Regions from separate parts of the Homo sapiens genome. Here region 2 is linked to region 1. Evidence: fine-mapped QTL for protein levels in blood plasma. A gene starts in region 1. The other region holds a variant in brackets. All regions are shown on one strand. Distances are between the middles of the regions. Region 1 holds the start of PDGFRB (platelet derived growth factor receptor beta). Region 2 overlaps PDGFRB (platelet derived growth factor receptor beta).

Region 1 (9,298 bases):
ACCCACTGCCCACTGGGTTCTGAATCAAATGCAAGAAATGGGTGGGCATTTCAGAAGACCTTTTCATCCCTTTCTCCCTTCCCACTGCATTCAGCAGCAGCCTGTTCTGAGCCAATGCCCAGAGCACCCTCCTTTAGCCTAGAAGGCAGCTGGTCTCAGAGTCAGACTGTGGCCTGTGCCTGGAGGATGGACACGGATCTTTGGAACATACATGGTGTCCAGGTCCCTTCTGTGGGCAGAGCCTTTTGCAGGTTGCAGATTAATTTCACAGCCAAGTGTTCCAATGCAGGAGGCCAGGAGAGCAGTGGTTCTCTCAGCCAGTGGCCAGAGGTCCAGCTGTGAAGTGCAGGAACTGTGGTAAGCACCTTGCCAATGCTGTTGTCTCATGGAGCCCACACACGGTCCTGCTGCTCACAGAGAAGGAGATTGAGGCCCAGAGAGGCAAGGTGCTGCCCCGGGGTCACACAGTCAGCCAGAAACTGACTCGGGGTCAATGCATAGTCATCTGATGCCCAAGCCTGGTGCTGGTTACCCACAGCGCTCACTGCCTCCCAGCTGCGGAAGGAGCCCAGAGATGGGATGTGGGGGGTCTGAGGTTGGCCACACGGTGGATTTAAATCAAGCCAGGGCAAGCACTGGGTCTCCTGACTCTGGATCCACGGTGCTTTCCACTGCCTGCCCCACATGTGTGGGCAATTATAAGTCCCAGCTCTTCTTCCCGCAGAGGAGGGGGGCTGCTGATAACTGCTGTCTGGGAGGAGGGTGCTGACCAGATGGTCTCTTTCCTCTCTCAAGACCAAGCCAGGGCCCGGGCAGACCTTGGAGCAGTCAGACCTGAGGCTGCACTTTCTGCTGGGGAAGGTGCTGAAGCCAGGAGCAGGCTCTGCAGGAGGATGGAGATTCTTCCCTCTGACTGGGAGCTTCCCGGGGAGCACGAGGTAAGCCTTTAGAGTCAGGCAGACTTCAGCCTAAACACCACCTTAACTCACCGTATGGCCCTGGGAAAGTCACTTAGCCTCTCCAGATCTCAGCTTCCTCATCTACAAAAAGTAGGTAATAACACTGATTTCAAAAACTTGCCATGAGGACTCCAAGGTGTGTGAAGTACCAGGCTCTATGCCTGCATGAGGTAGGTGTTCAGGGACTGTATGTCCCTGAAGGCTGTGGATTCAGGGTCTCCTGCTTGGAGACAGGGGAGGACTGCATGACTTCAGAACTTGTCACTAGAGGCCTCTGTGCAATTGGGAGGTCACAGAGGGAAGCAGAGATACTCCTCCCTGCTTGCAATGGAGGAATGCTGCCTGGAGTAGCCACACGATGTCCTGGAAGGGCACCTGTGAGAAGGCTGGAGGCCTGGGTTCTAGTCTCACACTTGGGAGCAGAAGGTCTTCAGTGAGCTCCTCCTCCCTTTCACCAGGACATTTTTTCAGCCGCACTGCCTATCCAGGGCTGGGCACTGGGGGAAGAGCACAGGATGGGGAAACCTTAAACCTTTCCCCAGCAGAAAGTGCGGCCTCAGTTCTGACTGCTGGGGCCTGAACAATCTCTGATGAACAAACAGAACATAAACAGATCACCAACAGGGGAGGGCCAAGTAACATGGCTTCAGCACAAAGTGCATGGCTAGCACTTGGAAGACAGGAAGAACCTAGGAAGGCTGCCTGGAAGAGGTGGTGTATGGAATATCCCTGAAAGAAAAGTGATGAGGAAGGGCATTCCAGAAAGGGGGAAGAGGGAGGGCAAATGCCCACAAGCAGGATGGTGCGCATTCCTTCTGGGAATTCTGGGATCTGACTGGCGGGAACAAAAGGCCCAAGTTTGGAGTAATGGGGCACGGGGAGATTCCAACCTCTCCAGGCTGTGCCACTTACTAGCTGTGTGGCTACAGTTATGTGGCTGCGTGAGCCTCAAGTTCCTCATGTATAAAACGGAGGTAAAAACAGTCACTGCCTCTGGGGTTGCTGGTGAGCATTACATGAGATCAGTCTCATAAAGCACTCAGCACAGTTGCGGCGTGCAGTAAGTGTCAAGCAGTGGCAGCCTCTGTTAGGAGCTGGGACTTTCTCCAGGCACTGGGGAGCCATAGGCGGATCCTGGGCAGGGAGGTGGTGTGATTGGATTTATGCTTTAGAATGGCATGGAGAAGGGGTAGAGTCCAGAAGGAGGGAGACAACGAGGAGGCCTGAGCAGCTGCCTGGGACCAAAGGAAATGGCCCAGTGGCTGACCCCTTCTTCACAGAGGAGCCCCCAGATCTGACAGCCAGGTCCCAGCCCCCAGACCCAGCAGCATGACCGCTAGGGGGTTGCCATGGCCGCCCATCACCCTCGAACTTTCCTAGCCCTCAAACTTTTCTAGCTGCTGGGGGTTTAGAAGGATATCTTAAGAATCTAGAAAATTTGCAAATCCATTTAAATCCCCAGAGGTTGCCTGGCGGCTGACTGGCCTAAAGCCAGACTGATTCTTAGAAACAAGGCTTGGGCCAAGGAACAGCGGCTATGGTCCTGAGGTCCCCAGTCCCCTGCTTTCTGTGTACCCTGCCTACCTTCTCCCAATTCCCCTCTCCCGCTCTTCCCAGCTCTCCCCACTCCCCATTGACTGTGCTGTGCTTTGGAGGCCCCCAGTCAGCACCCAGAAACCCCTGAGGATTGTTTGATGAAGGCAGGAGCAGCAGGGATGATGAGGTGGAGGCCACTCACCCCAGAGCAGGGGAAAGGAGAAAACTGGCTCCTCCATCCCTGACATCACCCACAGTCTCCCAGCCTCCTCTCATCTTGTTTTGTTAAAAATATCTTCCCTTTTTTTTTTTTTTTTTTTTTTTACCTACTCGAAGAGATGCAGGTTAGGGCAAAGGGACAGGGCATGGGGCTGGGGTTCCCACTTTTTCCAGCACTTACCTTGCTGCTGATGGCTTCTGGTGTGGGCACAGTTCCAGGCTCTGGACAGTCACCCCCTCCAGGAAGTCCTCCTTACTGCCCTCTCCCAGTTATCAGAAAGACTGCTGGTCCCAGAGTGGGTAACAGCTGAGTAGAAGGACAGGCAGGACTGGTGCAGGCTCCTGAAGGCTCAGGAGAACAGAGGGATGGAGGAAGGGGGCTGCTGTAGGGGAGAGGAGCGGCCCAGCTTCGCCTCACTCCCCAAGCATCCTTCGGGAGGAGCAGAGCCGCCAGAGGGGCCGCCCTGGGTCTGGCTGTCTGCGTTGGGCAGGGCGAGCACAGGCTGCTGCTGGGCAGCAGGGCTGAGGGGCCGGCTCTCTCCTCCTCCTTGTTGATCTCCTCTCTGGCTCCAAGTTGCTCACAGAGCGATCCTGGGTCCCAGATAGGGCGGGCAGTCACTGCTGGCTGCTGGCAGCCTCAGGAGCTCACACCACTATGGGCTTCCATGCCCCCCCACTTCCCCCGCCACTTTGGGGGAAAGGCTGCAGGGTGGCTTCTGATTGGCCCAGCTGGGAGAAGGGGGGGCGGCGGGGCAGGGAGGGTGGACGCGTGCGTCTGTTTTCAATTTCAGTTTTTTTCCCCCTCTCTCTTTCTTTTCCCCCAAGTTTCTTGTTTTTCTTCTTTTCACTCTGCTTACTCCCTCCCATCGCCCGTTCGCTCAGGATGTGAGGGGATGCTTAGAAATTCCACAGCCCACGCCAGCCGCCAGCTGCTGAGTCACTTTTGTCAAAGAGTGGCCTCGGCCCCACTTTCCCGATGCCCATGTCGGGTGGCGGCCTCCCCTTGCCATGGCACCCAGGGAGATCATTTCTCAGTGCCTCAGTTTCCCCATCTGTAAAGGAGACTCTGATCATCTCTGTGGTTGATTCAGTCAACCTTCATTCATTGAACAAGCATACTGAGCATTTACTACATTCTAACACTGTACTGGGTGCAGGGGACAGTAGCAAGACGTGGTCCTGACCTCAGAAGCACCAGGCTAGTGAGCAAGATATTCATTGGGCAAGCAGGTGCCCGGTCGGCAGACAGGAGGCTGAGAGTGCATTTAGAAGGACCCCTAACGGAAGCCTGAGAGAATCAGAGAGCACTGCTGAGAAGAGGTGACATGGAGGAGATGGAAAGATCCTCCAAGATGATCAGCCGTTTTTCAGAAGGACAAACCAAGGCCCAGGGGTGAATTGGCACAGAGAGGGAATGTGATTTGGTCAAGGTCATCCAGCACAGATTGGATATCTCTGGATATTGACAGATACATTCCTTTTCACGTCTCAAAGCCCCTGGGGTGCAAGGAGAGGATTATTTGCCCCATTTTATAGATGGGGACACTGAGGCCCAGAGGAGCAAAATAAGCTTCCCAAGCTTACGCAGCAATGGCAGAGCTGGGGCAGAACTAGGTCTCATGAGACACATGATGGAAGAGACACAAGTCATCTGACCCCCACCCGAGACCCCTATTCCAGTGTAGATGAACCCCCTGCCCTGCTTTCTTCCTAGGTTCCCCCTGTGGCTCTTTCATTCAGTCACTCAACAAGATACTTTCTTTTTTTTTTTTTTTTTTTTTTTGAGATGGAGTCTTGCTCTGTCTCCCAGGCTGGAGTGCAATGGCGCAGTCTAGGCTCACTGCAACCTCCGCCTCCCAGGTTCAAGTGACTCTCCTGCCTCAGACTCCCAAGTAGCTGGGATTACAGGCGCACACCACCACACCTGGCTATTTTTGTATTTTTTGTAGAGACCGGGTTTCACTATGTTGGCCAGGCTGGTCTCAAACCCCTGACTTCATGATCCACCCACCTCAGCCTCCCAAAGTGCTGGGATTACAGGCTTGAGCCACCGCACCCAGCCTCAACAAGATACTTTCAAGTATCCGTTTTGTTCCATTTCCATTCTCTGGCTCTCCTTTCCTACCAGGGTCTGCCAAGACTCCTCCAGTTCCCCCAGCTGGGTCTCTTCTTCCACCCTCAGCTTCTCAGATCAGAAGACATCTCCAGTTACAGACTCCTAGCCCTCAGATGGCAAAGGGCATTATTTTAGAAGGGCATATAGAGTGGGCTTACCACCCCTGCTCCCACTACTGCACCCACAGGGCAACTGAATTCCAGAGGGTGAAGAAAGCTGTCCCAGGTGACACAGGTAGAGGCTGGCTCTGCCCTCCTTCCCTCTGCGCCGCTAAGTCTTTCCTCCTCAGCTTCCCCCAGACCCCTGTTCACAGAGCAGAGGATTTGCGTGAGCTGGGATTCCATGCCCACCACAGTCAACTATCTTGCATTTCTTGGTCTAGTCCCAATCGGGATTGCCCAGCAGAGCATCTGGGCTGGACCACATAGAAGGAGAAGTGTTCTCAGACTGGTTCCCAGCCACGGGTTGGGGACCATAAGAGTACCCCGAGAGAGGGGGCCTGGCCAGGTCTTTGTGGCAACAGGGAAATAGGGGAATGTGAAAAGATCCCACAGGCCACAAGGTCAGGCTTGCACAGGGATTTCTTGTGCCCAAAGATTCCGTCAGAAATTTACGACTCCCCTCCTAGCATCTGCCTGGGCCATTCACCTCTGAATCCTTGGCTGACCCTCTGCAGCCAGGCCAGCCTGGGGGAGGCCACGAGACACACCAACCCCCTAGTCCCCAAAGAAGCTAGTCTGGGAGTCAGAAGACCCAGCCACAGACTTATCAGGAGAACTTGAATAAGTCCCTTGCCCTGCCTGAGCCTCGGTTTCCCTATTTGTACATAACAGTTGTGGACTCACTGTGCTACAAGGCCCTTGGGATGGTCCGTCTGCAATTTCCCTTAGAGCTGGACTCTAGCAAGGGAGAGGAGGCTGGTGGGCCCTAGGGCAGGGGTACAGCTGGGGCCAGAGATGCAGCACAAAGGGGAGGGGCAGTTGGCGGTGGCTCCCCTGGGAAGCTGGCGGCCTCCAGTTTCCGGCCAGCCCAGCCGTCCTGAGGCCCATCTGGAATTACTTAGCCCCTACTGCCATTAACCCTTGGTGGGCACCAGGACTGTCACTCCTCCTCTCAACTGAGATATGGGTGGGAGGTGCAGAGCTACAGGGAGCAACCCAGGGCACTCACCAAGGGGCAAAATTGTCATGATTGACAGAGGAGGTTGGAGAGCTAGAGATAGAGCTGGGTTCGAATCCCAGCTGCTCCAGTTTCAAGCTACATGAGCTTAGGCAAGTCACTTAAACTCCTGGCCTTGGTTTCCTCCTCTGGAAAATGGAGACAAGTCAAAGACTGATTCATAAGACTCTTCGGTTTGTACAAAGGACTTAGTACATTGCCTCGAAGTGTACTAAGTGTACACTATTACTGAAATAGTGAGTTTCCTCATTCGAGCAGCATTCCATCACTGTGTCTTCCTGGGCGGAGCCTCCCTTTTCTGGGTCTTGGATTCCCCTTGTGCACTCTGCCTTCAGCGGCAATGGACGGGGCACATGGGCAGTGCAGCACCATCACCCTGGGGTGGTCAGCATGGCCCCCAGCCCCACTGTGGACAGGACAAGCTATGAACATCCTCACACCTACACAGATACTGGGAACCCAGTCCAGCCTTGGACAATGCTGTCTTGGGGAAGCCTGGGCTGAGAGTAGGTGGGCAGAGCATGGAATGTGGGGAGCCCTGCCTGAAGTGGACTGGGATGGGGTACAGTGGGAGAGGGGGGCTCTGGGCCTTAGGGTTCCACACTGCCTTCCCCCACAGCACGGTGGCACACTCAAGAGTTAAATGTCTGGACTCTGATGTTGGCAGCTCCAACCCAGCTCCACCACTTCCCAGCCATGTGACGCTGGGAGATGATATGACCTGAGCTCTCTGAGCCTCAGTACCTTCAACTGTGAAATGGGGACACATGTGCCTACCTCACAGGGTTGTGGAGAGACCTGAATAAGCCATGCCCACAGGCATTTTGTCAAGCCTCGAGCAAAACAAGAAAGTGCCACAAAAGGTGACTGATCCAGCTGGGCGCGGTGGCTCACGTCTATAATCCCAGCACTTTGGGAGGCCAAGGTGGGTGGATCACCTGAGGTCAGGAGTTTGAGACCAGCCTGGCCAACATGGAGAAACCCAGTCTCCACTAAAAATACAAAATTAGCTGGGTGTGGTGGTGCATGCCTGTAATCCCAGCTACTCGGGAGGCTGAGGCCAGAGAATTGCTTGAACCCGGGAGGCAGACGTTGTGGTGAGCTGAGATGGCGCCATTGCACTCCAGTCTGGGCAACAAGAGTGAAACTCCATCTCAAAAAAAAAAAAAAAGGTGACTGATCCTCAGGTGTTACCAAGAGCTGCTGTCATAGAAGTCCACCATCAGGGCTGGAGGGAAGCTCACCAACATGCTCATTACACAGCCGGTATGACTGAGGCCAGTGATGGAAAGGAACTTGTGCAAGGCCTTGTGATGTGTCAGCCACAGACTGGGACTGGAACCGAGGCTTTCTGTCTAGACTCATAAGCCCATGCTCTTCCCCAGAGGAGGGAACCAGGCTGAACAGACCCCCGTGCTAAGACCCCCCTCCCCCACCCACGCTTGTCAGAGCCGGAAGTTGCTGCTCTCAGTGGGGCAGGGGGAGGGAACCGGAAAGGGAGCCTGAGTGGGAGAATTCCCAGGAGGCCGCTCAGCCCTCACTCAGGCAGGGCAGCGGCCACCACATCTGGCTCTCCCACGCTCCTGGCTCTGCCCCCACTCCCAGGCTCCCCAGGCAGAGTTGTGGGGTGGGGGTGGGGGGTGATGAGGAAGCAGCACACATACCCCAGGCGCTCACACAGTCATCTTAGACGTCAGGACCCTAAGATATGTCCCTTCTGCTGGCATGGACACTGAGGCCCAGAGAGTGGAGGGGACTTGTCTGAGGTTCACGGTGGGGCTGAGGGAAGCTAGAATACAGGACTCCTGATCCCCAGCTCAGTGTCCTTCCACCCATGCATGCCCTGAGCAGAGCACGTAGATCCTTGTGCCTGTGGCTGGGGAGCCAGAGAGGCACAGAGTGGGAACTGTCCCCCTACCTCCTGGACACTCAGTGTAGTGGCTTTCTGAGTGGGCAAAAGACCAGCAGGGGCCTTGGGCCACATTCCCTCCCTAGATTCTTAGGACTGTCTTACTGAGCCAGACTGTAGCCACCGAGGTCTGCCAGGGTCCCAGGAGATAAAGGCTTCAAGACACTGCCCATTCAGCCTCTCCTTGCCCCCTTGCTGGCCTCCCTCTCAGCCCCAGGACCGTGGGCAACTTGAGTGTGTCCATCTGGTACACGCAGATGGCTCATAGATCCCCAGAAGAGCAGGGCCCTCACCCTCACTGAATACACTGGCTCCTAAGGTCTGGAGAGCACCAGAACTTTTTTGAGGGCACACAGCAGGCCTAGGGTGGGGCCTCTCCATCTAACACCCAGTTATCACTAAGATAACTGTTCCTCCAACCATCCATCCATGCGATAGAAGTTAATTGAGGACCTACTATGTGCCCTGTCCTCCTGTCCTCACAGAGTTCACAAGCAAACACCGAGGAAACCACAAATTAATAATATCAAATTGTGATGAGTGTGATGAAAGAGACAAAGAGAATAATGAGCTGGGTGGATGGGAGTTCTTGTTCAGGTACAATAGGGCTTCTGTGGGGAGGAAGCAGGCCTGTGAGGCCACACACATTCAGGAGTAGGAACAGTGTTCGAGGCAGGGGGAAAAGCATCTGCAAAAGCTTGGAGGCCAGAGAGATCTTGATGGGTTCGAACAAAGAGAAAAGAATGGTTGAGGCAGAGAGCCGGCAGTGGGATGGAAGATTGGAGAGGTGGTCAGTGGCCAGGCATCAGGGCTTTGTGGGCTCGAGGGAGTCTGACTTTTATCCTGAGGGTCAGTAGGGGCCACTGCAGGATTTTAAACAGGGGACTGATGAGACCAGGTCACCCAAGTGCACTGTGGAGGATGGACGAAAGGGGGCAGGAGGGAGGCATGGGACGAGTGTGGAGGCTGCAGTGGCCGATCATGGACTGAACACTGCACACACACACACCCGTACTCCGTGCTGCCCCCAACTCTTTATCCACCTGAGAGGCTGCAGGAATGCATCTCAACAGGGAGTTTGGGCTTCTGTGTCCCAGCCTGTGCCTGGCCACTTGACTCACAGTATGGCCTTTTTCCTTCCCTGGCCTCTGTACCCTCCTCAGCACGGTGGGTCAGACACAGTGCTTCTCTGATAAGGACATCTATGCCCTGGGCCTCTGGTTCTAGCATCCCCTCTACTACCTAAGTGTCTGTGTCCTGGGGACTGCCACCCTTCCCTACCCCTCTGTTTCCCTAGGATAATCAGTGGCATCCGGGCATTACTGAGACAAGGCAACAGTACGGCGAGTCCTCCAGCAGTACCCAGGAGTGCCAGCAGGT
Region 2 (5,260 bases), 30 kb before region 1:
CTCTGAGGAGGGGAAGAGGCCAGGGTAGGGGGAAGCAGGCCGAGGAGGCCAGGGAGAGGAACGCTCTTTCCCAAACCAGACCCAGACTCGGGAGCAGTGCCTGCTGCAGTGTGATGGCCCCTCTAGTGCCTGCAAATCAGCATCAGGCCACCCTGGGAGAGGCTAAGTGTGTGGGGAGGGGCAGGGAGAGGTGAAGGCCCAGATGTGGAGGGCTCCAAGGACTACTCACATTTAAGCATCTTGACGGCCACTTTCATCGTGGCCTGAGAATGGCTCAGGCCATGAGCCGTGGCCTCCACCACCTGCCCAAAGGCCCCAGAGCCGAGGGTGCGTCCTGGTGCAGAGATGATCCATTAGCTCCTGGCCTACCAGGAAGCTGCACCGCTCCCCCAGCTGCCCCCCTCCCCCCACTCCCCTACCCCCGGCCGCTATCACCCTTCCTGCCCAGTGAGGGGAAAGAGCCACTCTCTTAGGTCAACCTAGACATTACTTAAACCACCTTGGACTCAGGATATTCCCTAAACACACTCCTGCAACCACAATACCTCCCTGTCTTTCCTGGTATCTCATCTAAGTCCTGCCTGCTTTCTGCCCCATCTTTAATCTCTGGAAAGTTTCTTCCCTCCCAAGGGAGCACGCTTCTCTGTACCTCCTCAGCTTCCCCAGCCAGACCAGGCCTGCTACTCAGCCTGTCCTCAATCCTTCCACTTTTGCCACATAGGGATCCCGTCTCACAGGGTCACAGGATCATAGAACCTCAATGCTAGGCAGTTCCTGGGGGATGGTCTTGCTCTCATTGTACATAGTAGGAGATGGAGGGCCAGAGAAGGCAAGACACCAGCCCTAGGTCTCATAGCTAGTCATGGCAAGGCTGGGACCAGACCTCAGAGAGTCTTCCCACCCAACTTGAGTCCCCACACTGCCACATGAGGCCTCTCAGGACTGACCCAGCACAAGCTGGTCCCGCGGCAGCTCCCACGTGGAGTCATAGGGCAGCTGCATGGGGTCCACGTAGATGTACTCATGGCCGTCAGAGCTCACAGACTCAATCACCTTCCATCGGATCTCGTAACGTGGCTTCTGGAGGACCAACCCCAGGAATTAGTTATCAGAGGGAGTCTCAGGCCCTGAGCCCCATTAGGTTCGTCCGTCTAGGACACATGGGGCAGGAGACCCTGAGGCCCAGAGAGGGGCAGGGGCATATTTGAAGTCACACAGCAAGTGCTCAACTGAGCCAAGGTCTTCGTGGGCTCGGAGGGAACAGGGACCAAGGGGCCCCAGAGGAGGCTTCAGGACTTGGCAGACTGAGGAGCAACTGGCAGCTGAGGGCCTGGCTCATGAGAACCTCCTCTCTAGCTTCTCTCCCAGCCTTCGCTGCTCCTCAGATGGAAGTAGTAGAGCAGGTGACCCCAGAAAGTGACACCAGGTAGGGTACTCGGCTGGATGCGGATGGCCCTCCCCAGTGCTGGGCAAGTCAGAAAGATGTAAGCTTAGAATGTTGACATCTTAAGGTGTTGGAACCACAGGACTGGAATTTTAGAAAGATGGGATCATGAGGTGCTGTAATCCTGATTCAGGAAGCTTAAAATGTTGGAATCACAGAATGGTAAAATCTCAAAGCAGAACACTGAAATTACAGACTAATAGGATCAGAATGCATTTCAGTAGAATCACAGGTTCTCCATGGGTGAGACCTGGAAGAATCCTGGAGCCCATGCAGTCCACCTCAAAGGTCCCATGCTCCATGGCTAGGATGAGAGGAATGGTGTCTCAGCAGGACCCGGGGACTTAATGACACAGTAGGGGAAGGGAATCCTGGATAGCTCGGGCCAGGCTCAGGTTGGCCCAGACTGCTGGGGGTGGAGGAAGCTGAGACAGCCAGCGTCACAAGTCCCCACCTGAGTTCCATGCTGAGCCCTGCATGTGGCCAGATCACGCAGCATTCAAGGAGGGCAGAGGGGTGGAATTTATGCAAAATAATGATGTGCCAGTCTTCACCCACTGGGCCAGGGAGGGGCTTACCTTCTGCCAAAGCATGATGAGGATGATAAGGGAGATGATGGTGAGCACCACCAGGGCCAGGATGGCTGAGATCACCACCACCTTAAAGGGCAAGGCTGGAGGCAGAGATGAGAGCAGGCCATGAGCAAACTGGGCAGCTACCCTCCCCTCACCCCATCTTTGGCATCATAGATCCCTCCGTACACATCCTGTCCAGAATAGAAGCGCCCACCTCCCCATCAGCCTGCAGTGTCAGACCCTCAGCATCTCGCTCTAGGCCACACGTTCAGACTGTCCTGTAAATACTCCATCCCCTCAGTAACTACCCCCACTCAGATCACTGCTGGCCTCCACGTCCCTTCAGCCCTGCCAGTCAGTCTGGCCTTGCTGCCAGAGCTCTGGACGGGGTGCAAATCCTGTTCTGAGTTCCTGTCCATTGCCTGGACCTCCCATTAGCCCTGGAGCCCCTGAGGGCTGGGTTGTGGCTTACCTCTCCTCTGAGTCCACACCCTTGCTGGGGCTGCCACAGCTCGGTCAGACTCCAAGCTCCATGCCTGACCGAGTGGCCGGTGGACTGAGTGAGTGGCCACTGAGGGAGCAATGGCTGAGACCCCCAGCCTGATGAATCCAGACCTCAGCACGGAGGCCACTTCTCCCCACTTCACCCAAAGGGCCCAGTTGGGGTTGGAGTGGTGACGGTAGTTAACAAAGTGGGGCTCACACTGGCCCTTACAAGCCTCGAGTCTCCTCCACCCTCAAGGCCTCAGCCTCTTCGCTGTACAGCTTCCCACTCTCCTCATCCAGCCCCGCCAGACCTGCCTCTCCCCTGCCCTGCCCTGCTGGCCACCCATGAGGTCCTATGGAACTCATTCCCTCCTCTTCTGTCCCCAATCTATGCTTCTTTGCTCCCTAGGGAGTCCTGTCCCACCTCCTCCTCCCCATCCATTGCTATAACCTCAGTCCCTAAAACCACACCTGGCACATGGTAGGTAGCTGGTACTATTTGTTGAATTACTAAGTGAATGCCATTGTTATGCTTAAAATCTTTGGATGGAGGCTGGGTGCAGTGGCTCATGCCTGTAATCCCAGCACTTTGGGAGGCCAAGGTGGGCGGATCACGAGGTCAGGAGTTCAAGACCGGCCTGGCCAATATGGTGAAATCCCATTTCTACTAAAAATACAAAAAATAGCTGGGCGTGGTGGTGGACTGCTGTCATCCCAGCTATTTGGGAGGCTGAGGCAGGAGAATTGTTTGAACCCGGGAGGCAGAGCTTGCAGTGAGCCGAGATCACACCACTGCACTCCAGCCTGGGCAACAGAGCCAGACTCCATCTTAAAAAAAAAAAAAAAAAAAAAAAAAACTTTGGATGCTTCCCCATGTTATCAGTAAAGGAAAAAGGCCAAACTCCTAAAATGGCACATAAGGCAGAGGCTTCATGACTCTACCTCTGCTTCCCTCTCCAACTTCGTCTCTCACCCCTTATCCATTCTCCCTTACCCTTACCTATCCTCGCCATGCCTTCCTCCTCAGGGTCCCAGACCAACATCCCTCTTCTCCTCCCTCCTCCCGCTCATCACACATCTCGGTCCTGGGAAGGAAGCCTGCATCTTCTAGGCAGCCATCGCTGGAGGCATGAAGGAGCCCTCTTGCAGCCATCCTAGGCCCTGTGTGCTGGTGCTCAGCTTCCCGCTCAGGCTTTAGTCACACAAAAGTGTCACATCTGCCTTGGCTCAGAGCTGGTCTTCCACTCAGGCTGTCCACACTGTCTGCCCAGATACCCACTTGCTCAGAGAATGTGTATGCATGTGTGGGAGCATGGGTGAAATGAGGGGATGAAAGAAGCCCACCCATCCACCACAGGGCAGGGGACAGGAGGCAGCTCTAGACAGGCACGTGCCTGAACATGCCCAGGGACCTGCATACACAGAGACCAAGATGCCTCACATGGCCTTTGGAGCCCTGCCTGCTCTAGATCTGCCGACCCCTGTAGCTCCATCCCATAGCACTTCCTTCCCCTTTATCTGCCACCCTTCCAGCCCCTAAGTATCCACACACTCGATCCTCCAGCCAGATTGAGTTGAACTCTTTTCATTTCTAGGAACTCATTTTGCCTCTGGGCTTTTACACAGGCCATTCCCTCTGAGTGGGACACCATTCCTTACCAGGCTAACTTCTAGTCATTTTTCAGGTTTTCACCTAAAGGTTCCTTTTCTAGAATACTTTCCTGAATCCCATAGCTGGGCATGGGACCCCTTCTCCCTCCAGGCTTTGCCCCTAATGTGGTGATCCCGGAGGGAATTGCCAAGTTCCTTGTCTGCCTTCTCTCTCTGGACTATGGGTACTAGGAGGTCCAGGCAGGGCTGAGCCCTTTGACCTTTATACTTCAATGAGAAGTTGG[G/A]TCCTCATATTTATCGAATGAAGAAGAAAGGTGAATAAATGAAGCACACTCATACAGGTGCATGTATGCATAAGGACGGGCAGCTAGATACACAAAAGCATCAAGACACTGGTAGGCATTGTTCATACGCACAGAAATTACACGTGTATGTGTACCTGCTAACAGATGTACATTGTACAGCAGGCACATGTGTACGGGAATTATGCTTGTACACTTTTCTAGAAAGGTGTGCTCCAATTATATGCTTACAGACATGCACTATGCCAGTTTGCATGCATGCAAAGGAATTGTACATGCATTGCTTGTACACATGTACAGGAATTGTGTACCCACCGGTACATGCATACAGACATACACTGTGGGGTTTAAACAGATGTCTGGGAATTAGGCATGCTCATGTACATGGCTTACAAACACGTGGTGGGTTTACATACATGGACAGGCATAGTGCACAGGTGTATGCTTATACACATACACTCTAGCTTTACAGGAGTGACTGGAGATTGGGCATTCTTCAGTAGACGATTTACATATCTACACACAGAGGATTTGCACCTATGTTCAAGGAACAGGCATGCTCATGTACATGGCTTACGACATACATATAGTATATGTACACCACACTGAAGGATATTCATATCCATGGCTTACAGACTTGTGTTTGTACACGTGTGTACCCATATTGTGTTTGCCAGAATGTGTTCCTATGCATGTACACAACAGGGTTTCACAATGCTCCTGTTTGCCCCTGGGCATGCTAACTCCTTTGGCCTGCTGTGGGTACATGGGCACATTACCAATTAGGCAGGATTAAGGTAGGGATTGGGATCGTCAGGGGCCACTGAGGCTGGGGACTCACA

Evidence for each region. PIP is the chance, under the fine-mapping model, that this variant and not a neighbour inherited with it causes the effect. Protein levels are from antibody-based Olink assays in UK Biobank. Linkage for the fine-mapping came from a reference panel and not from the study's own genotypes, which makes the PIPs less certain.
Region 2: its variant is fine-mapped to the plasma level of the PDGFRB protein (UK Biobank, PIP above 0.99).

What each region holds. Positions count from the first base shown.
Region 1 is chr5:150,152,502-150,161,799 of GRCh38, forward strand. PDGFRB (platelet derived growth factor receptor beta) reads right to left here and starts at 3,344. Exons shown (of 23, transcript NM_002609.4): 1 at 2,896-3,344. RefSeq lists enhancers at 64-584, 585-1,104, 5,262-6,050, 7,569-7,638, 8,425-9,298.
Region 2 is chr5:150,124,498-150,129,757 of GRCh38, forward strand. PDGFRB (platelet derived growth factor receptor beta) reads right to left here. Exons shown (of 23, transcript NM_002609.4): 10 at 5,260; 11 at 2,023-2,117; 12 at 948-1,080; 13 at 230-334. Among named protein-coding and RNA genes, the nearest start is that of PDGFRB, 29 kb to the right of the region's middle. RefSeq lists an enhancer at 3,293-3,794. The variant G/A (reference allele first, on the strand shown) is at 4,401.